2 separate regions of the Homo sapiens genome follow, and region 2 is linked to region 1. Evidence: fine-mapped expression QTL. A gene starts in region 1. The other region holds a variant in brackets. All regions are shown on one strand. Distances are from middle to middle.

What was found. PIP is the estimated chance that this variant, and not a neighbour inherited with it, causes the effect.
Region 2: its variant is the best candidate, but not a certain one, in a credible set for the expression of ARAF in whole blood (TOPMed, PIP 0.71).

The regions. Positions count from the first base shown.
Region 1 is chrX:47,554,363-47,566,287 of GRCh38, reverse strand. ARAF (A-Raf proto-oncogene, serine/threonine kinase) reads right to left here and starts at 5,083. Exons shown (of 16, transcript NM_001654.5): 1 at 5,037-5,083; 2 at 3,225-3,379; 3 at 2,959-3,062; 4 at 1,389-1,491; 5 at 1,149-1,303; 6 at 938-1,036. The coding sequence starts at 3,320. LOC124905184 (a long non-coding RNA gene) reads left to right here and starts at 4,849. Exons shown (of 2, transcript XR_007068225.1): 1 at 4,849-5,204; 2 at 7,741-10,352. RefSeq lists enhancers at 2,164-2,458, 9,741-10,242 and a silencer at 4,717-5,016.
Region 2 is chrX:47,601,991-47,613,915 of GRCh38, reverse strand. SYN1 (synapsin I) reads left to right here. Exons shown (of 13, transcript NM_006950.3): 2 at 6,718-6,775; 3 at 6,880-6,971; 4 at 8,537-8,693; 5 at 8,849-8,938. Among named protein-coding and RNA genes, the nearest start is that of SYN1, 12 kb to the left of the region's middle. The variant T/C (reference allele first, on the strand shown) is at 6,954.

The DNA of each region.
Region 1 (11,925 bases):
TGAGGAGGAGATGACAATGGAGTAAACGCCTAAAGGCAGGATAGCAGGCCACACAGATAGTGGGGAAAGGGTAATGTATCATATTTTATAATTATATATTATAATTACATGTACTTTTCAAATGTTATATAATATGTATCATCTATATAAAAATGGCAATGTTTTAAAATATACATATTACCATATTGTTATACATACATGTTATACATATGATATATGCTAAACATATTGTAAAGTTACAAAAATATGTTAATGTTCCCTTCACTATCCTGAAATGAAACTCAAAGGTAATTAATGCACATACACTCATAATTTAAAATAATACCCTAACTTTATTTTATGTATCATATAAACATGTATGATGTTCTACATTATATAAAATTATGTAATACAACATGATACAATAACATAAATATACCATAAAATATGCACATCATAAAATATATATTAGAGCAATAATATATTTTAATATAGCTATAGTTTTATATAATATTTAACATAAAAAAGCAATAAAAGGGAAGTAATTTATGATAAAATAATACGTATTTCAAAATGGAAAGGCTTGAGTATGATTATACTAGAATTAGCAAAGTAGTTAGATGCTTATAAATATATTTATAATTAATAACAAAAAAATTGATTATTTACACTGTACCAGATCCTGTTCTAGGCACTGAACATGTCTTAACTCATTTAAGCCTCACCAGAACCTTTATATGGTAGAAAGTATCATCATCCCCTCTTTACAGATGAGAAAACTGAGGCCCAGAGAAATGAGGTGACTTGCCCAAGGTCCCAGTTTCATGCCCTTACTCACACTTGTAGGTGCTCAATAAATGTTTGTCAAGTAAACAAATGAATAAAGTATGGCTCGTGGTCTACAAGAGCCCCAAGATCTTTTTCTCCCCCAGCAGCTCTTCAGCTAAGGCATCCCTACCTGGGACCCTGGGGGGTTAGCAACTCATTCAGGGGGCGGTTCGAGGGAGCCTCATGCTGTCTGGAGCCTCCGGACAAATCCTGGACACTGTGGTAGAACCTTGAGGGCATGAAGGGTATAAAGCAAGGGGACACGGGTCAGCTGTCTGTAAGGGCCTCGTGGCTGGGCCTCTGTGCTCCCCATCCCCCCACCCACCCCAGGCTGGGCTCACTGTTGGCGGTTGGTACTCATGTCAACACAGACTGTGGGGACCTTGGAGGAACAATGCTGGTGGAACTTGTAGCCACAGGTTTGGCAACGGAAGCCATGGAACAGAAACTTAAGGCAGAAGTCACAGAACGCCAGGCTGAAGAAGGTCTTCCGTACCTGATGCCACAGAGCAGGGAAGTTTGAGACCTGGTCAAGGACACCCCCAACCATGGTCCACCCCCACCGTCCACCCTGCACTCACAAAATTGTGCATGGTCAGCGGGACATCTTCAAGGACCTCGACAATGAGCTCCTCGCCATCCAGGGGAGCAATGGCTGTGTCCCAGGCAGTGACCGTCTTTCGTCTGCAGGGGGCATGGAAAGGAATGAGTGGGAGGTTGGGTAGGGGCCATGGGGAGGCAGGGAACCCCCACAAGTCCCTCCAAGCCTGCTACCCACAGGGTCATGTCTGGCATGTTTAATTCTCATCACAGCAACTCTAGAAATTAGTCACTATCCTTGCCCCAACTTTACAGATGGGGAAACAGGCTCAGAGGGATAAAGTGACTGGCCCTGGGCCACAAGGGTAATGAGAGGCATGACGGTGTGAAGAGTCCATGCTCTGAAACGGAAGGGGAGAAGCAAATGAAACTAAACAACTACATCTTAGAAGCGCTAAGCCAGCCCCTGAAAAGGGGGCTGAGGAGGCACTGAAACAACAAATAAAGTGCAGTGTGTGAACTGCATCATAAATTAAGGAAACCCACGAGAGAGGAATAAATAAAGTCAGCAAGACCCAACTCAGCAGACAGAGAATGGGGAAAATGAGGAAGAAGAGACCTGATGAAGTCATGACATCGTGAAAGGACAAAATAGATGAAATCTGGGCAGAAGTGATGGACCAGGGTGAGGACTTGGGGGCCAGGGGAGAATGAGTTGCTGACCTTACAGGCCAATAAACCAATGAAGTAACAAAACAAAAGATGGATGAACTCATAGATTACTTGAACTACAGTAGTCCTCCCTTATCTGTGGTTTCACTCTCCATGGTTTCAGTTACCTGTGGTCAACCGGGTGGGAAAGTATTAAATTGAAAATTGCAGAAATAAACAATTCATAAGTTTTAAATTACGTGCATTCTGAGTAGCGTGATGAAATCCTGCACCATCCCACCCAGGATGTGAATCACCTCTTTATCTAGCAGATCCACACTGTCTACGCTACCGCCCATCACTTAGTAGCCTGCTCAGTTATCAAACAACTGACTCAATATCATAGTGGCTGTCTTCAAGTGACCGCCATTTTACTTAATAATGGCCCAAAAGCACAAGAGTAGTGTTGGTGGCAATTCGGACATGCCAAAGAGAAGCTGTAATGTGCTTCCTTTAAGCAAAAAGGTAAAAGTTCTTGACTTAAAAGAAAATCATATGCTGAGGTTGCTGAGATCTACTGTAAGAAAGAATCTTCCATCTTTGGAATTGTGAAGAAGGAAAAATAAATTCATGCTAGTTTTGATGTCATACCTCAAACTGCAAAAGTGATGGCCGGAGTGCATGATACGTGCTTAGTTAAGACGGAAAAGGCATTACATTTATGGGTAGAAGACAAGAATAGAAACATGTTCCGACTGATAGCAATTGGGTTCGGTACTATCTATGGTTTCAAGCATCCACTGGGGGTCTTGGAACATGTACCCTGCAGATAAGGGGGGACTAAAGACTAAGGGAAGACTAATGGAAGACTCTGTGATAAAGTACAGAAGGAATCAAATGACTGAGGAGGGGATGGGAGGTGGGACACCCAGTGGGTGGGCGTGGGGCTGCCACACTCACCCCTTGATGAGTCGGTAGACCACACAGCAGTCCTGATTTAGACCCCGCACCTTCAGGGCCTTGTCTAGAGAGTCGTAGACACTCATGCCATCCCGGACAGTCACCTGTGTGTATGTGCAGATGTAGGGGTCCTCAATGCCCAACAGAAGCGCAGCTGATGTTCCCATCCTTCTGCAAAGGCCTCCCCCAACCGTTGTCACCCTTTTGATCCCAGAGTTACAACTGGGTCCATCCACAGCCCCTGCCATTTCGCTTCCATGACTCACCACCGTGCGTTGCTTGTTGGGCAGGTATACTTTGACGGTGCCCACTGCCCGGGATGGCTCGGCCCCATTGGCAGGGGGGCCCCGTGGTGGCTCCATGGAGCCTTAGATTTTGTCAAGATGGGCTGAGGTGGGGCTGGGCAGGTGCCATGGGGCTCCTACAAGAAGGCAGACAAGAATTCAGAGGTCCAATAATGATAGTCTAGAAGCAAAGTGGCAGGGGACAAAATAAAATTCAAAGTCCAGGCTCCTGTCGCCCCCTGCAGCCTAATTTTCACACGACAGTCCAAGAGATCCTGCTCACATCTGAAGTCCTTCCAGTTCCTTCTCTGCTCAGGCCCTCCTGTTGCTTGTCTCACTCTTGAGTGCCAAGGTCTCAGCTTCACTGCACAGGGTTGCGGGGGAGAGAACAGGGAAGGGGGACAGAGCATACTGTCTTGGAGGGTAGAGGAGCACACAAGACTCTGTGCTGGGGACCAATGGGGAAGTCAGTACACACTGCACTGAGCCGTCAGGTACATAAGAAGCACGAACAGAATGTCCTGGGTTTTTTTTTTTTTTTTTTCTGTTTTTTTTTTTTTCTGACAGAGTTTCGCTCTTGTTGCCCAGGCTGGAGTGCAATGGCATGGTCTCAGCTCACTGCAACCTCCACCTCCCAAGTTGAAGCCATTCTCCCGCCTCAGCCTCCTGAGTAGCTGGAACTACAGGCGTGTGCCACCACGCCCGGCTAATTTTTTGTATTTTTAGTAGAGACGGGGTTTCACCATGTTGGCCAGGCTGGTCTCGAACTCCTGACCTCAGATGATCCACCCGCCTCAGCCTCCCAAAGTGTCCTGGTTTTTTAACAGAGAACGGGGGAAATGCCAGTTACTGTGGTGAGGGAGGAGTCGCAGGCACGGTGATGGGAAAGAGAGGATTATCAGATACTGCCCTTAGTTTGGGGAAGATGGAGGTTGCACCAAACATGTCCTTAAAGGGCACTGTGGACATCCCTAAGCCCTGGGGTGTAATGTTGATGTTAGGACCACAGACACCGTTGTTAGGTGGCTAATGGAAGTCCCAAGCCTCTATGATGAGGAATTCATGGGGGGGGGGGGTCACTACATACTATGCGGAAGGGAGATGTAACAGGCGTCACTAGGGACTGTAATGGGGAGAAGGGTGGAAATGGAAATGACCAGACATTGAGCCGAACTGGGGAGGTAATGGTGGACCACCAGACATTGTCATAGCAAAAGGAGAAGGAAGGTATGGTGTTGCGGGGAGAAAAATGGAGGTAAAGAGGGAGCTCCAAAATTCTCCTTGACAACCTGTGAGGGGTCACAGGCATATTACTGGTCTAAACTGAATGAGGGATCATGGAAGGCGGTTACAGAGGCGAGAATCCTGACATTCTCCCGGCGGGGGCGGTCAGACACTGATCCAGAATAAGGAAACCGGGGAGTGAACCGCGTTTCCACACACTCCCCGCAGTTGGTAAGGAAAGGTCATTGGACACCTTAGCGGGGGTTAAGACGGAATCCCGGCACCACTCGGTCGGGTCCCGCCTACCAAAGGGCTTCCGGCTCTGCGCAGGCGCACCACCACTAGCAGCGGGCGAAACCATCACCCGCAGCCTTGCCCGCCTATTCCTGTTACCCACCCCACCCCCGCTGTCGACGATGGTCTCGCCCCGGGTCAAACCACTCCTCCGGTTCCGGGCAGGGAACGCCGGGGCCCAGGCGCAGCCATCCTGGAGCTGAGCTTTCGGTCCGGGCTCCCTGCCCGTGCCCGGCAGCCGCTCCAGAAACCGAGCCCTCCCGGGCCCGCCCTCACCTGTCACGCCGCTACAGCCGCCGCCGTCTCCATCTTGGGCCTCTCTTCTTGTTTCCTCACAGAGTCCGCCTCCGTCGCCTCTCGGACTCTCGTTATTGGCTCTGCGGGACTCAGCCTTCCACCCTTATTGGGTCAGGGTCACGTCTGTCAAGGCAAGACCAACGGAATGTGAGTCGTGTTCCGGATTAGGAGGGGCCGCCTGAAACGTCAAGATCTGGGGCAAGCGCTCGTCCTGACTCGCGCAGGCGCAGTTGAGGCAAGACCTGCGTGCCTAGGGCTTTAACCCCAACAGTGGCATAGACGTATAAAGCAGAACACAGGTCATTTGGGGCTGACCTTAGGGCTTTGGCATCTGGGCGGAGAAATCCTTAAGTACCCTTTTTGGGCCAGTGCCCTAAGCACCCTTTTATGATTTTCCCGTGTCTCAGTTTTTACCATCTTTGAAATGGGTTGGAATCAGAACCAATGATCGGCGATGTTCACCAGCTCTAGGAGACTGTAGTTCATAGCCTTTGAGGACAGCGGGTCTCTGGTGTGGCGGGGGCTGGGGGACTGGGCCTAGGAGGGGCGGCCTGCTGTCTGGGAGGCTTCCTTTAGGAATGGGGTTGATTAGGACTATGAAAAACTAGTCACAGGTGGCCAGGTGAAGAGGGAAGTGCGGACCTGGAAGGGAGCACGATGCCAGTCAATGTGTGGAGGTATTGTGGGGTAAACACAAATTTTTAAAGATCGAATTTTCCCTGGTGTCAAAAGAGAAAGACGTCTCTCTTAGAGCATTTCCTTTAGAAAACTTGTAACTGTAAAATTTTCTCTGTCCCTTTGAGATGTATGTAAGTCCTTTTAAAAGCTAAATCTCTTGCCAGTTTTACATCCCCGGAATGTTTTTCTTAAGAGCCTTGTAGCCATCTCTTTGAAATGTAAACATCAATGAAAATAGCACCCCTGTCTTTCCCTGTCTTCGTGGGAATTTGATCTGCGTGCCTGGCTTCAAGTTATTACCTGCTTGTCATAGAGATATGAGTTTTCGTTTTCCTTTGGATAAAGGCAATTAACTAACACAGATAGCCACCCTAATTACCAGGTGAATTTGGGATGAAGTATGTGTACCAAATGGTGCCGTCAAGTTTCTTGAGCACAAGTTATTGTTTGAGAATATGTTTGTAATGGGCTGTATCTGCCTGCTACATAAACGGATGAGATTTCTTTCTGTCTTTGAAACCTCTTTAGCAGATTGTTTGTGATGTGCATCACAGTCTGGTGTAATGCTTATTCAGTTATAAAACTTTCCATTCCTGCCGGGTGCGGTGACTGATGCCTGTAATCCCAGCACTTTGGGAGGCCAAGGCGGGCGGATCACTTGAGGCCAGGAGTTCGAGACCAGCCTGGCCAACATGGCAAAACCCCGTCTTTACTAAAAATGCAAAAAAAAAAAGTCAGCTGGGCGCGGTGGCGCGCGCCTGTAATCCCAGCTACCTAGAATGCTGAGGCAGGAGAATCACTTGAACCCAGGAGACAGAGATTGCAGTGAGCTGAGATCACGCCACTTGCCACTTGCACTCCAGCCTGGGTGACAGAGTGACCCTGTCTCAATAAAACAAAAAACAAAAAAAAACTTTTCATTCTTGTCTACTTTGTGGAGAGGATTCATTGGGTTGGCACGAGATTCTCTTTTTAATTATTTCCCCAACACCATGAATGGCCTGTTGTGTTTCAAGTGACTGCATTCTCCTGTTTGGAGATTTAGCATCCTTTGGCAATGTAATGGGAAAGATCAGAGGAAGGTCATAGGTGAGGGGGGGCCTCAACATATTTCAATCTGTATTTATCACATGGCTTTCTCTGTCTATAAGAAGGAAGACAGAAGTTCTGCCTACTGGCCTCCCATATAATTTCCATTTCCCAACTCCCCTTTTCTTTTCTTTTCTTTTCTTTCTTTTTTTTTTTTTTTTTTTTTTTTGAGACAGAGCCTTGCTCTGTCACCCAGGCTGGAGTACAGTGGCAAGATCTTGGCTCACTGCAACCTCCGCCTCCTGGGTTCAAGTGATTCTCCTGCCTCAGCCTCCTGAGTAGCTGGGACTACAGGCGCCCACGACCATGCCTGGCTAATTTTTATATTTTTAGTAGAGACGGGATTTCACTATGTTGGCCAGGCTGCTCTGAAACTCCTGACCTCAAGTGATCTGCCCACCTCGGCCTCCCAAAGTGCTGGGATTACAGGCTTGAGCCACCACACCTGGCCCCAACTCCACTTTTCTATTCGGATCTTCACCATTTAATGGCTAAAAAAATTTTTTTTTTTTTTTTAGAGACAGGATCTCACTATGTTGCCCAGGCTGGTGTCGAGCTCCTGGCCTCGTTCTCCCAACACTCTAGGATTACAGGCATGAGCCACCATGCCCAACTCCAATGGATAAAATTAAAAAGACTGACAATACTATGTATTGATGATAATGTAGAGCAATTGGAACTTTCATACATTGCTATTGGGAGTGTAAAGTGGCACAAGCACTTTAGAAACAGTTTGGCAGTTTCATATAAAATTAAACATAGACCTGCCATGCAATCAATCCAGCAATCTCACTCCTAGGTATTTACTCTAGAGAAATGAAAACACATGTCCAATGGTGTGCTGGTAAATGTTTGACAACCAACGCTCCAGGAAGAAAACAGCTCTAATTTGTACTGTCCCCATGGCTTATTTCAGGCTACCAATATGACAGTCGCTGAACCAGATTTAAAAGAGATGCACAAAATCCGCTCTGGTGAGCCAGCTACAACATGCTACTATTACAATATGTCTGCACAAAAACTTGTATGCAAATGTTCAGATTAGCTTTTTCTTAATAGCAAAAAACTGGAAACAGCCCAGGTGTCCAGAAACAGAACTGACAAAAAAATACAACAATGGGATTATGGAATACTACTCAGCAATGAAAGGGAATAAATTACTGACATATAGGAAGAGCATAGATGAATCTCGTAGACATGGGGCAAAATGAAAAAAGCCAGACACAAAAGAGAAATACTGTATTCCACCCATATGAAATCTAAACCAGGCAAAACTAATCTATAGTGAAGGAAATCACATTAGATGTTGTTTTGAGGGAGAATGACTGAGAAGTGCATTAAAGAACTTTTGCAGGTGATTGGAATGTTCTGTATGCATTTGTCAGAACTCATTGAACTCTATTTTTATTATTATCTTTTTTTATTTTTGAGACAGAGTCTGGCTCTGTCACCCAGACTGGAGTGCAGTGGCACGGTCATGGCTCACTGCGCCTTGACCTCCTGGGCTTAAGTAATTCTCCCACCTCGGCCTCCCAAGTAGCTGGGATTACAGGCATGCACCACCACACTCAGCTAATTTTTAAAATTTTCTGTGTAGATGGAGTCTCACTATGTTGCCCAGGCTGTTCTTAAACTCCTGGGCTCAAGTGATCCTCCCACCTCGGCCTCCCAAAGTGCTGGGATTACAGGCATGAGCCACCTTGCCCAGCCTCATTGAACTCTACACTGAAAATGGATATATTTTGCTTTATGTGTAATATACCAGAATAAGAACTGCATGGCAAAAAAAAAAAAAAAGAAGAAGGCCACAAACATAATTCTAAACATTTGTTTCTTAGAAATTCTTATTGGTTAGAGAAATTATTTTGAAAAAATTCTTTTTTCTGAAATTAAATCCCTAGACCCTGAATCTCCATCTCCCACTGCAGGAGCCCTGGCAAACACCTCAGTGCCAGTGGGGTCAGGAACAACTCCTGTTTGGAGCTCAGTGAGGGGCTTTGGGGAGGGGAATAGGGGAGTGCATTTTACATTTCAATTCACTTAAATATTTAATTTGTTTAAAAACTTTAATTTCTAGGCAGTATTTGAAGACAGACCTCTGGCTCCATCGTTCAACGTTTACAAAAAGATGAGAAAAATGCCAGCAAAAGCTCATTGCTTTTGCAGGATGGGGGAAGGAGGGGAAGGGTAGGGGACATAGCCCACTCAAAGGCAATGCTTTCTCCCCCAAGGACTCATAGACTCACTTCACACCCATCTCAACTGGCACTTCAGCCAAGTACCTTACAGGTACCTGACACTTTAAAGCATGAAGTCCTTTAAAGTGATTTAGGTTTGGTTTTCTTTTGTTTTGCGACAGAGTCTCGCTCTGTCACCCAGGCTGGAGTGCAGTGGTGCAATCACAGCTCACTGCGGCCTCGACCTCCTGGGCTCAAGCCATCTTCCCAGAAAGCTGGGACCACAGACGCATGTCACAGCGCCTGGCCTTTTTGACTTTTTGTCATTATCATCACCACCATATTTAAACCATTAGAAGTACCATGTATTAAGACAAAAATTAAAACCCAAACTAGTTGATTATAGTTTTCTGACATCCCCCTTGTAATTATCCATCTGGAAAAAAATGTAAAGTTATCAAAGTACTTGTTGGTTTTTATTGTTGTTCATTTTAAAGTCTCAGAAATATGTCTGAAAATTTTTTAAAATCTGAAGTGTTCACCGACTGCCGTTGTAATGCTACTTTTATAGCTGAGGACATTAAGGTTCAGGCTGCCCTAACCAGAGGGGAAAAGGAGAGAGTGCTCCAGGACTTCGTTTGATAAAAAGTGTTTAACAAGGGTGCGGGCCATGGGCACCTCCTTAAGGAATCCCAGATCCACCCAGCAGTCCTGCGTGCCTGGGGACCTCCTCTAAAACGTGCGACTCTCATTTTCCAAAGCCGCCGACCTCACCGGCCCCTGCTGCGGCCTGGAGAGCGCCATCTCTGGGACCCCCTCCCACCGCCGTCCTCTCAGCTGTTCATTTCGGGGGAGTTGACCGTGCATGCACATTTCTCTGAGACCGGGAACACAGGTTTGACTCAGGCCCCTCAACCACCAGCTCCTCTCTGCCAACCCAGGGAGCCTCTCTCCGCAACAGGCCCCCCCCAACAGGCAGCGAGATCTGCCAATAGCAGTGCAGTAGAAGGCGGGCCTTGGGATACCCTGGGCATTGATAGGCTCTACTTCACCACGGAGCCACTGACAGACCAATAGCTATGCACAGGAGGTGGCCAATGGGAGGTGTGTGGGCCTGAGACCGGCTACAAACAAGGAACTTAATGTTGCTTTTAAATCAGTGATGAGGCAACAGTAATTGTTCCATCGAAATCCTTAATAAAAGTAGAGTGTGGAAGTTTCCACTTCTGTACATTCCTAGAAGGGATTTTTAATATACAACCCTGGGGGGAGAGGTGTAGGAAATTTACAAGTAAGTGAATTTAACCATGACTTTTTAACTGTTCTTATTAAAAAGTCTTTCTTAGCAAAATTCATTGAGTAGTAATTTCAATTTGCTATCCCTATGAAAAACACACCATTTAACAGACAGAGTTTTGGGGGTTTTTTTGTGTTTTTTTTTTTTTTGTTTTGTTTGTTTGTTTGTTTTTGGAAACAGAGTCTCGCTCTGTCGCCCAGGCTGGAGTACAGTGGCGAGATCTCGGCTCAGTGCAAGCTCTGCCTCCCGGGTTCACAGCATTCTCCTGCCTCAGCCTCCCGAGTAGCTGGGACTACAGCGTGCGCCACCACGCCCGGTTAATATTTTGTATTTTAGTGAGACGGGGTTTCACCATGTTGCCCAGGCTAGTCTCGAACTCCTGAGCTCAGGCAATATGCCTACCTTGGCCTCACAAAGTGCTAGGATTACAGGCGTGAGCCAGCACGCCCGGCCTGTTTAATTATTTTTTTTAAGTTCATTATATGTTATATAGGGTACCTCCATATTTTCATAAAATTAAACAAAAGTGCAGGCTGACTTTGGGAGGCCGAGGCGGGTGGATCACGAGGTCAGGAGATCGAGACCATCCTGGCTAACACAGGTGAAACCCCTTCTCTATTAAAAATACAAAAAAATTAGCCGGGCATGGTGGTGGACACCTGTAGTCCCAGCTACTCAGGAGGCTGAGGCAGGAGAATGGTGTGAACCCGGGAGGCAGAGTTTGCAGTGAGCCAAGATCACGCCACTGCACTCCAGCCTGGGCGACACAGCGAGACTCCTTTAAAAAAAAAAAAAAAGTGCAGGCTGATATATTTTCCACTTCCAAACCCAAGGATCAGATGAGTGGAAAAACATGATTAAACCAAATAACAGTCGTATAATTTTATTATTAAAGATTTACTCTGATGAGGACATTCTGTGCTAAGTATGATTATTTCTCAAATAGGAAAATATTTACTAGTTAAGCAAAGGGATCAATATGAACCCATAAACAAACACTGAGCAGTGGGGGCAACCTTTAAGATGCCATGGACAGTGACAGACACCTCTCTCCCTCCCTGGTAGCTCCCTTGGTAGGGATTGCAATTCAGTATGGTCAGCAATTATTTTTAAAGTGTAATTAATTAAACAAAGAAACAAAAAGCATTTCCACCAAACAAGGAATTCTGAAATGTCTTCTTTTGGTTTCAATCAGAAATACACTTTGTAAAAATTTTCTCAAGGTTTACACATTTATTCCAAGCACATATACACTGACCCACAGTAGATTTCACCACCCATCATAGGAGAAAAAAAAGTGTAATATCTGTTGGTTTACATCATCTATATTTAATAAATTTTGATTCAATTTATAAAATTATTGTAAATGAAATTTCAAATATACTCCAAATAATTTTCATTTTTTCTGGATAAGTGAACCACATGTTGTCTTTGCTATATCATTATTGATATAATATAACATGTAGTCCTCTCTGTATATAGTATAAAATAGCTTGCAATAGTTTTTGTCACCCATGTAAATGTTGCCTACCATGATGTGGTATGAGAAAATCAATTCTGAAGTTACCCAGAATGCCTTAATACTTGACCACTTATCTAGTTAGTGTGTGTGAATATCCTCAGGTCC
Region 2 (11,925 bases), 48 kb before region 1:
CGGTGTATTCTACCTGTTAGGAACACAGCACCTACAATGGCCATTGATTTAGGGTTGACACTGTTTTGGAGGATGGTGCCCATTCTTGCATGATCTCACCTTCAACCTGGGATCTTAGCTGTGGCTGCACCAAATTGTTCCATCATTCCATCAGGCCAGCAGCTCCCGGGTGGCGTGGTGTGTAATACCATCAGTTAATTCCATGGTCATGGGCCCACTTTTGCACCTCCTTTGCTTTGCATTCCTTTACTTTGCTATAAAGTGTGTCCTTTGGTTTGACGCAGTGTTATGCAGGGTCTCGTGCTGGTGGATCAAACGTTATGTAAGCCCTTAGACAGTGAGCTGGCTGAGGTCCTGCAGTAAGAAAAGGCAAACTCAAATATGGAATATTCCAGTCAAAATCGATTACTGTTCTTTGCAGGATGGAAGGGGCCCAATCTAATCAGCTTGCCACAAAGTGGTTGGTTGGCCTTCTGGAGGGATGGTGGCGTGTCAGGGATTCAATGTTAGTCTCTGTTGCTGGCAGATTGGACATTCAGCAGTAACACTGCTGCCCCCACACATAGCTTCTCTCTCTGCTGCTATTGCCACTTATTCATGTGCCCATCTGCTAACACTGGGGTGGCTGATTAGAGCCTGGCTGACATCATCGGGCTGACTCATGCTGTCTACCTGGTTGCCTAGTGTCACTTCCATGGCGCCATGGCAGATGCTGTCTGGTGGGTGTTAACACACGATCCAAAGATCCTCGCTCCTCCCTTTTTTTTTTTTTTTTTTTTTTTTTGGAGACGGAGTCTCGCTCTATTGCCCAGGCTGGTGCTGTGGCACGATCTTGGCTCAGTGCAACCTCCACCTCCCAGGTTGAAGCAATTCCCCTGCCTCAGCCTCCCGAGTAGCTGGGATTACAGGCGTGCGCCACCACGCCCGGCTAATTTTTGTATTTTTAGTAGAGATGGGGTTTCACCACATTGGCTAAGCTGGTCTTGAACTCCTGACCTCAGGTAATCCGCCCACCTCGGCCTCCCAAAGTGCTGGGATTACAGGCGTGAGCCACCGCGCCCAGTCTCACTCCTCATTTCTTGCCCACTCCTAGGTGTCTGCCCACATTTCTGTATCCCAGACCTCTTTGTCTGGATCTTCCAGTCTTTTTATTTCCAGGCCCCTGACCAACCAGCCAAACCATTTACCACTGCCCATAAGTGGATATATGTATTCTAATCTTGAGGCACTTCTCTTTCTGCACAAAGGAGATGAGCAGGTGCACAGCCTGAAGCTCTGCCCACTGGGAGCTCTGCCACTGTCTTTCAAGGCCATTCCAGTTGGGTTATAGTGCAACCACTGCCCATTTTTGGCTTCCACCCACATACTAAGACAACCAATTTGTGAACCAAGCTTAGACCTTTCCCTCTTTCATCAGCTAGTTTTAAGGAGTCCCCTTAGTGAGACAGGCACTAGCACAACAGTGTGGAAGACATGGGGATCAGGGTTACTTACCTGCTCATGCACCTTGCTTGGTTCTGCTTGGGCTCAATCCTGACTGCTGGGCCCACCTGACTTTATTATTTGGCGGGCCCAGCAGGACCCAGCTTATAATGGGAACTTCTGGATGCACAATCATTTGGTGCCTGGTCAAGCATTCTGTCTCTATCAGGGCCCAGCACCTCAATGGGGTGTCTTTCTCAAAAGGCGTAAAATTCTCTGCTGCAGATGGCATGGCTTTGCTCCAGAACCCCAAGGGCCTCCCACTCAGGCTTCCCATAAGCTCCTCACTGCATCTTTCCCCACTACTGACACCTCCAGTATCATAAGATCTGCCAGATCATCTGGCCTAAATGGCAGGACTGCTTGTACCACAGCCTGGACCTGCTGCAGAGCCCTTTTCTGCTCTGGCCCTCACACAAAGCTGGTAGCTTTACATGTCGCCTGGAATATGGGTCAGAGCATTATTTGTGTGTGGGGGACATGCTGCCTCCAGAATGGGAAGAGGCCTCCTAGGTATTGTGCTTTCCTCTTCATGGTGGAAGGTGCGTGATTCAATGCTTTGCTCTATTCTTTGGAGGGGCTGTCCTGGTTTACTGCCCTGGACCACTGGATTCCTAAAAATTTTACTAATGCATCGGTCCCCTGAGTCTTTGTGGAGTTTATCCTCCACCCTCTGTAGTGGATGTGTCTTACCAGGGCAATATGCTCACCCTCTCTTGCTCATCTTGCACAATCAGTATGATGTAATCCATGTGGTGGTCCAGTGTGCTATTCCATGGGATGTCCAGATAGTCCAGGTTTCTCTGGACTATATTATGACACCAGGTGAGAGAGATAGCATAGCCCTACAGCAAGACCATCTATGAATATTATCATCAGTCTCATGTGAGTGTAAACTGTTTCTGATCCTTTTTTCTAATCAGAATAAAAAAGAATGCATTTGCCAAGTCAGCAGCCACCTGCTGTACCTGAGGTCTTATTAATCTGCTCTGGCAATGACAGCGTGTCCAGTATGGCAGGTATAACTAAGGGTACTACTTGATTGTGCTTGCAGTAATCTGCAAGCATTCTCCAGGACCCATCTGACCTCTCCAGGGGCCAGACTGCTCAACTCGATGGAGATAAGATGAGACCAACACCCCTGCATCCTTTAGATCTTTCAATGTGGCATTGATTTCCATCATCACCCATAGGATGCACACAATATTGTTTGTGGTTTATTGTTTTGTTCAGGGCATGGGGGTGTGCGCCATTTTAGAAGCTTCTATTTGGACTTCCCTACTGAAACAGCTCTTATCCCACAGGCTGAGGAGCCCATGTAGGGGTTCTGACAACTACAAAGTATGCCATTGCAATTACGCATTTGTGAACTGAGGAAGTGACCACTGGGTGGGTCTCTAGACCCACCAGACCCACTGTAAGCAGGACCTGGGCCAGGACTCATTTATCACCTTACCACTACTGTGCTTCTCAGCGTGACTGGTACCACCCTCACCAGCATGTTTCTTATTAATTTCATAAGTTGAGTGTATCCTCCAGGCCTTAATCAGCTGGTGGGTTTTCCAGACTTCAGTAGTATATCTACTCCAACATGTCTGCTTCTTTGAGCCCTTTAATCCTTCCCTGTGCAATCTGCCATGGAAGTTCTGCTTCACTTAGTGTGGGCCATTGTTTACTCCAGGTTTCCAAATACCAGTGTGTTAGTAACACTTCCTAGAGTCCTCGCCAGGGTTTTAAGTTCCGTATCCTGGGAGAGCACACCAACTTCCTGTTCTACCTCCTTCGCCCATTGTCCTCAGGATCCAGTCTCATGCATACCTTCCCAGCTCCTGCCAATACGTACTAGCCAGATTCTTTAGGTTCTTCTACAGATCATTTCTCTCCCTTTGCAAGCCTAGAACCTGTCCAGTCAGGTTTCACTAGGATTTCACCCTAATTTTTGGTCTGGTTTCCAGGAGGGTAGGTGGGGGGTAGACTCTGAGGGGGGCAGGCATTGTCTTACAAAGCACCTGCATCATCCGAGGCCTCTGCATTATCTTCAAGCAGAAGGTCTATATTCTAACTCAGGGGAGTAGTCTACTTCAGCAGGCCCAGTGGATGCAGGTGAGTCTGTAAGTTCAAGGTGTTTAACTGCATCTGCCCAGATATCCCCATCTCAGAGTCCTACTCCTGTCCTATTAGGGACATGAGCATGGCCCAGGAGATGTGCTGGGCCTGAGAAGTCAACTTTCTCCGAAGCTCCGCCACCACGTAGAATTAAATTCTGAGCCTGGCCCTCCCTTCTGTCTGCCCTCTGACTGCAGGAGATGAGGGTTTCCTTAAATGCAGTCAGGGAGATCCTCTGGCTTTCACATTTTGCCTTGAATTCACCCTGAGCATGTCAGGTCTTTCTTCAGCTACTCAATGGCGTTTAGGGAATAGTCACCCAAGTCTGGTTACCATTTCCCTGACATCACTCAAGTTCCAGGGATATTTCACCATCCAGTACATTCCCTTCCACCAGAATCCCATTACAGCCCACCATCAGGAAAAGTCACCGCTACTCCAAAACCCTGGGGGCCTGCGCTGTATTCTCCCACCTGGGAGAAGAAATTCCACACAGCATCTTTTCCTACTACTGACACCTCCAGTGTCATAGGATCTGCTGGATCATATGGCCTAAGTCACATCCTGCTTGCACCACAGCCCGGACCTGCTGCAGAGCACTTTGCGTTGCTACAGCATATCGGAGGCTATCTATGCCCCACCTCCCACTACTGATGGGTCCTCACTGCCATCTGGCTGCTGGGTAACCCAGCTCCAGAATTGCATTAGACCACCCTTGTAGTTTGACTTCCATGGCCCACTGTTTTAGGTTGGGTTCCCTGGAAAAAGACTTTGAGGTGGAGATTTGCATGCAGGAGGCTTACTGGAGTGTGCCATTGGGATCAACACTTGTGAGGAGGGTTGGGTTGAGCAGAGGAAGAGGCTGGCTCAAGATGTAGTTGCCTTAGGGGCCTCCGCTGCTCTTAGGGGGAGCCCTGGGGCTGGGAGGGTCCTTCAGAGTCAGCCCAGATTGAGGCAAGGAGGCTGGCCTTTCTTTCCCTTCATAGACCAGACCATGGGGATGCCCTCATGAAGTAGGTGTAACCTTGGACAAGGCAGTTCCCTGTGACAAGACAATTCCCAGTGGGGACACAGCCATGAGCTGTCAGTAGCTGCCATTCAAGGTACATTGTCCCTGAAGAGGAGGCCTGAGCAGACCACCACAGTATCCAACTACACTTATGGTCAGAAAAGTTTTAGAAACAGTGATACACCCTCATCATCCCCACTCATCAGTTTATAGATGAAAAATGTGCAGGGCTGAGAGAGATTCTCTCTCAACACTTCTGAGGGGATAGTGTCAGCGATGGTGTGTGTGTGTGTGTGTGTGTGTGTGTGTGTGTCAGAGAGAGAGCAAGGAAAAAGAAGTAGCTGTACTTGGGGTCTCTTGCATATGTCAGTCAAGTCACCAGGGTCCATTTGTGCCGTGTGTGTGTGTGTGTGTGTGTGTGTGTGTGTGTGTCTGTCCAAGACCCTGATTGTATGTGTGTCAGTGACCAGTAGCCCTGAAAGTGTCTCTCCCCCTCATCCCCCTTCCATGATAAACCTGATTGAGGATGAGCTTCCATCCCTGGAGCAAGCAGCCTGTTGGCTAGAAATCTTGAGCCTGGGGGAGGAGGCCACCGGAAACCAAGCCCAGCTGGGGACGGGCCCGGGGACAATGACATAGCAGTTCGTGATGTTCCTACTGCTGCTCCCACTCCCCCTCCCTCCTGTTGCTCCCTCTCCTCCTCAGCTGCATTCCTCCCTGCCCCCCATCATTGCCAGCTACACTGGCTTCTCTAGAGCCACCCAGCCTGCACCACTCAATCCACTCCTCCTTATCGGATGCAGCTGCCCACCTATGGCCATTGTGTTTCTCACAGCACACAACCACACATGGTGAATGTGCTCCTCCTTGCGAAAGGGCCAGAGAGCAGAGAGATGCTTCAGGCCACACAGCCAGACACAGGCACTGACATATACACAGGCACTAAAAAATACACAAAAACAGGCACGCTTCAGAGAAATGTAGTTTCTTTCTCTCCTTCCTTCCTTCCTTCCCCTTCCTTCCTTCCCCTTCCTTCCTTCCTTCCTTCCTTCCTTCCTTCCTTCCTTCCTTCCTTCCTTCCTTCCTTCCTTCCTTTCTCTTTATTTCTTTCTCTTTTTTGCCTAGGTCTTGCTCTGTTCCCCAAGCTGGAGTGCAGTGGTGCAATCACGGCTCACTACAGCCTCGACCTCCTGGGCTCAAGCCATTCTCCTGCCTCAGCCTCCCCAGTAGCTGGGACTACAGGCATGCACCACTATGCCTGGCTAGTTTTTGTTTTTTGGGTTTTTTGGAGATGGAGTCTCGCTCTTGTTGCCCAGGCTGGAGTGTAATAGCACCATTTTGGCTCACTGCAACTTCCGCCTCCTGGGTCCAAGTGATTCTCCTGCCTCAGCCTCCCAAGTAGCTGGGAATACAGGCATGCACCACTACACCTGGCTAATTTTGTATTTTAGTAGAGAAGGGGTTTCACCATGTTGGTCAGGCTGGTCTCGAACTCTTGACCTCAGGTGATCCACCCGCCTTGGCCTCTCAAAGTTGTGGGATTATAGACGTGAGCCACAGCCCTCGGCTTTTGTTTTTTTTTTTTTTTTTTCAATTTTTTTTGTAGAGATGGGGGTCTCTCTATATTGTCCAGGGTGGTCTCCAACCCTTGGCCTGAAGCAATCCTCCTACCTCCAGCCTCCCAAAGTGCTGAGATTACAGGCGTAAGCCACCGTACCTGGCCAGATAGGTGTTTTCTAAGGTTCTTTGCTGTTTACCGGTCTCCATGCAATTTCAAAGTATGTTCTAATTTACATAGTGCTGCTAATTTTGTGAAGTTTTTTTAAAAAATTTACAATGACAATGTGATGAGCAGACTAAATTTTGGGAAATACCTGCTCTCTGCAGTGTAAGGCCACATTTTACAGTTTGCAATGTCCTTTAATATTTTTGCAACTCCATGAGGATTACAACAGACATTATTCACAAAGCACTCTTGATTTTTTCAAAATATTTCAATAATTATAAGGCACTTTGTGGTTTCTTTAGTAGCATTGAAGGGGCAAAAGGGTCAAGGGCCTGTGTTTTGTCTTCCCTTCTGAGATTTCATCATTGACAGATGTGTTGTTTTTCCTCTCCAGGGCAAAATACTTCAAAGGGAAAAAGATCCATGGAGAAATTGACATTAAAGTAGAACAGGTAAGTTGGGACATTTGGACCTGGGGGTCAGTTGTCCATACTGCAAACTGAGTGGCCATTTTTGTGTGATGTAGGTGAATCACCAGTTTTTTTCTCCTTCCCAGGCCGAATTCTCTGATCTCAACCTTGTGGCCCATGCCAATGGTGGATTCTCTGTGGATATGGAAGTTCTTCGGAA[T/C]GGGGTGAAGGTCGTGCGGTGAGTATAAGAAGGGTACCTTGGTGTTATGAGCAAGGCATAAGAACTCTCCCTTAGAGCTGGGGGAAAGTTCCTACCTCCCCACCCATCCTTCTGTGGGCAAGAACTTAGGCATGGAATGTGGGGAGACAACTTTTCTTCAGAAAAAGAGCCAGGGACCCCAGGATGCCACAAGTCAGACTTTAAAAAAAAATATATATATATATATATATATTTCAGACAGGGTCTTGCTCTGTCTCCCAGGCTGGAGTGCACTGGCACAATCATGGCTCTCTGCAGCTGCAACCTCTCAGGCTCAAGTGATCCTCCCACCTCAGCCTCCCAAGTAGCTGAGACTACAGGTGCGCACCACCATGCCTAGCTAATTTTTATGTTTTTTGTAGAGATGGGGGGGGTCCTCACTATGTTGCCCAGGTTTGTCTCAAACTTCTGGGCTCAAACAATCTACCTGCCTTGTCCTCTCAAAGTGCTGGGATTACAGGCATGAGCCGCCACACCCAGCCTTCAATTATTAATTAAATAAACATTTGCTAGACATCTGCTGCATGCCAGATGCTGCTCTCAGGACTTCATATTCAATAAATATTTATTGTACACCTACTGTGTGCCAGGAGATATTCTACATGCTGAAAGGCCAAAAAAAAAAAAAGAAAAAGAACCTGGGCCTTATGAAACTTACATTCTACTGTGAGATACACACAATACACAAATAAATAAGAAAATGTAAAAGTGCTAAGAAAAAACATAACAGTGGCCGGATGTGGTGGCTCATGCCTATAATCCCAGCACTTTGGGAGGCCAAGGTGGGTGGATTGCTTGAGCCCAGGAGTTCAAAATCAGCCTGGCCAACATGGTGAAACCCCGTCTCTACTAAAAATAAAAAAATTAGCCAGGCGTGGTGGCAGGTGCCTGTAATCCCAGCTACTCGGGAGGCTGAGGCAGGGAAATCGCTTGAACCCGAGAGGCGGAGATTACAGTGAGCCATGATTGCTCCAGCGCCTGGACAACAGAGCAACAGTCCGTCTCAACAGAAAAAAAAAAAAGAAAAAAATATATATATAGCACTAAAGCAGATGTAGCAATTGTTGGATGATGGTGGGGTCTGCAGTTGGGATAGGGTGGCCTGGTTGCAGGAGAGACATTTGAGGAAAGACCTGATGGAGGTGAAGGAGTGATCCATGCAGATATCTAGGGGGGAAGTGCTTTAGGCAGATGGAACAGCCTTGGTAAAGGTCCCAAGGTTAGAATTTATTCTGGGCAGAACACTGAAGACAGCTTGCAGTCTGAGAGATGGTGACCAGGGAGTTGTCAGAGCTGTGTCGGTAAGCTGCAAGCTGACCTTGCTGAGAAGGGAACAGGTAGGAGAGGCTTAAAGGGGATCACCAGGTGGGCAGAGGGTAGAAAGGGTGCACTAGGCAGAGGGAACAGCTCACACATGTGTGCAGAGGTGAGAAACCACTTTGCAATTTCTGGGAGCTATGGAGATTTAAAAACTTGGTCTTTGTTTCGAGAGTGATTGGGAGCTTCTGGGGGAACTCTCAACACTCCTACCCCTGCCACACTAGGTCTCTGAAGCCGGATTTTGTGCTGATCCGCCAGCACGCCTTCAGCATGGCACGCAACGGAGACTACCGCAGTTTGGTCATTGGGCTGCAGTATGCTGGAATCCCCAGTGTTAACTCCTTGCATTCTGTCTACAACTTCTGTGACAAGCCCTGGGTGGTAAGTAACAGGAAGGGTGCCACTGGCAGAGGGAACAGCTCATGCATGTATGTGGGAGCTTGAAACCAGTCTGCGATTTGGGGAAGTGAGGGTGTTCAGAAACTTACAGATTCGTGGTGAAGGACTCACTGACCCAGCTCTCCTGGTTCTCATAGTTTGCCCAGATGGTTCGACTGCATAAGAAACTGGGGACAGAAGAATTCCCTCTAATTGATCAGACCTTCTACCCCAATCACAAAGAAATGGTGAGTTTGGGGAAAATAGAGTGGGCAGGAGGGAAGAGTCATAACTACTGCAATAATATTAAATATTGGTATATTATCAGCAGTGCGATATCAAGAGTGTGGCTGCTGTGTGCACGTGGAGTCATGAAGTTGCTTTGTGATAGGGTCTACCGTGAATTTCCTTATGCTTACAAGGAAAACTAAATCATGATCCATTCTAATATGTATCAGATCCTGTTACTCATGTTGTCTATTTTTGCCAGTATTAAAAACCTATTTCTAATGTGAATTGACAGAATTAATGTAATGAATCAGAATATATTACATATAGAAATTAAGTCATTATTACTAACATTATCAAATATTCCTTCTGATAGAAATTTTACCTATATTCAAATTAGGATTGCCAATAACATTTATCAATAATAATGTTATAAATTAAATTGTTGGCAAGGCACGGTGGCTCATGCCTGTAATCCCAGCACTTTGAGAGGCTGAGGTGAGCAGATCATGAGGTCAGGAGATCAAGACCAGCCTGGTCAACATAATGAGACCCCGTCTCTACTAAAAATACAAAAATTAGCTGGGCATGGTGGTGCGTGCCTGTAGTCCCAGCTACTTGGGAGGCTGAGGCAGGAGAATCACTTGAACCCGGGAGTTGGAGGTTGCAGTGACCAGAGATCACGCCACTGCACTCCAGCTTGGGCAACAGAGTCCCACCTCAGCCTCCCTCCTATTAATTAATTAATAGAAATTGAACTTTTGGTTACTATTATGAAATATAATCACTGGCCGGGCGCGGTGGCTCATGCCTGTAATCCCAACACTTCGGGAGGCCGAAGTGGGCGGATCACCTGAGGTCGGGAGTTTGAGACCAGCCTGACCAACATGGAGAAACCCTGTCTCTACTAAAAAAATACAAAATTAGCCCGGCGTGGTGGTGCATGCCTGTAATCCCAGCTACCTGGGAAGTTGAGGCAGGGGAATCGCTGGAACCCGGGAGGCGGAGGTTGTGGTGAGCCAAGATCACGCTATTACACTCCAGCTTGGGCAACAAGAGCGAAACTCCATCTCAAAAAAAAAAAAAAAAAATATATATATATATATAATCACTAATATTACAAATTATCACTAATATTATAAATTATTTTTACTGTTGTAAATTATGAGTACCTATGTCATGAATTAAATTATAGTTTCTAGTAGAAATTGAATAATCATTACTAATAGCATCAAAGATTATTGCTGTTATTACAAATGATTATTGCTATTACAAATTATGCTCTAATATAAATTATAAGTACCTGTTTTGACTTACATAAACATGGCATGCAGTGGAGACTACCACAGTTGGGTCATTGGGCTACAATGTGCCAGAATAAAATATGCTGAACGTTTAAATAATAGAAATTGAATTATCATTGCTAATATCATCAAATATAACAACTAATATTACAATGCATTACAGTGTTACAAATTAAGTTTATTACTATAAATGATTAGTACTTATGTTGTAAATTGTTATAATTATTTTTTAAAAATTTAAACCCAAAGTGGGAGGATCTCGTGAGCCCAGGAGTTTGAGACCAGCCTGGGCAACATAGCGAGACCCCATTTCTACAAAAAATTTAAAAATCAGCCCGGCATGGTGGCATACACCTGTAGTCCCAGCTACTTGGGAAGCTGAGGTGGGAAGATTGCTTGAGCCCTGGAGGTTGAGGCTGCAGTGAGCCATGATAGCACCACCGCATCCCAACCTGGGCAACAGAGTGAGACCCTGTCTCAAAACATTAAATAAATAAGTAAATAAAATTAAACCATTAGTACAAACAGTGTAAAAATTTTTACAGATATAACTATTACCAGTGTTACAAATTAAGATTACTAATATAACCCATGAGTACCTGTGTTTTGAATTATCTTGTAGTTCCTAATAGAAATAATTACTAATATGGTTAACATTCTAACTGCTATTATAAAAAAAATCACTAATATTAAAATTTTGATTACTAATATAAATTATGAGTACCACAGTTATGAATCAAATTTTAGTTACAAATAGAAATTAAATAATTGTTACTAATGCAATCAAATTGTATAAGTAATTTTGTCAATTTTTACCAATATTACAAATTATGTTTACTCATATAAATGATCATCACCAATTTTATGACTAAAATTACAATTAAATATAAATATTGACCCAACACTATCAACTTGATTAAATAAACATTGCTACTAATATTAGCAATTCTTACCAGTACTACAAATTATGATCACTGATATACGTCAACAGTGTTGTAAGTTAAGTTTACTTACAGATAAAGATTGAATCATTAGTTTTTCTTTTTTTTTTTTGAGGAGGAGTCTCGCTCTGTCGCCAGGCTGGAGTGCAGTGGCACAATCTCAGCTCACTGCAGCCTCCGCCTCCTGGGTTCAAGCGAATCTCCTGACTCAGCCTCCCGAGTAGCTGGGACTACAGGTGCGTGCCACCACGCCCAGCTACTTTTTGTATTTTTAGTAGAAAAGGGGTTTCACCATGTTGGCCAGCATGGTCTCAATCTGCCCGCCTCGGCCTCCCAAAGTGCTGGGATTACAGGCATGAACCACCATGCCCGGCTTGAATCATTAGTTTTAAGGAAACCCAATTTGTTTATCATTATTATTAGTCTACATTCTTTGAGAGACAGTAGAGCAGAATGTGATTAAGAGCATGGACTCTGTAGCCAGAATTTCTGTATAAGAATCTTACCTCCACAACTTATTAGTTGCTTAACACAGGAAAAGTTACTTAAACGCCCTGTACCTCAGTTTATTCATCTGCAAAATGTAGGTAATAATAGTTCCCGCCTCATATAGTTGGTGTGAGAATGAAATTACTTAGTAAATGTAAGGTGTCTAGAACAATGCATCTGGCATATATTAACTGCTACCTCAGTGTTGACAAATTTCTCCTTCTATTCTTAGTTGGTTGAGTATTTTTGTCGTGAAAGGATGTTGGACATTGT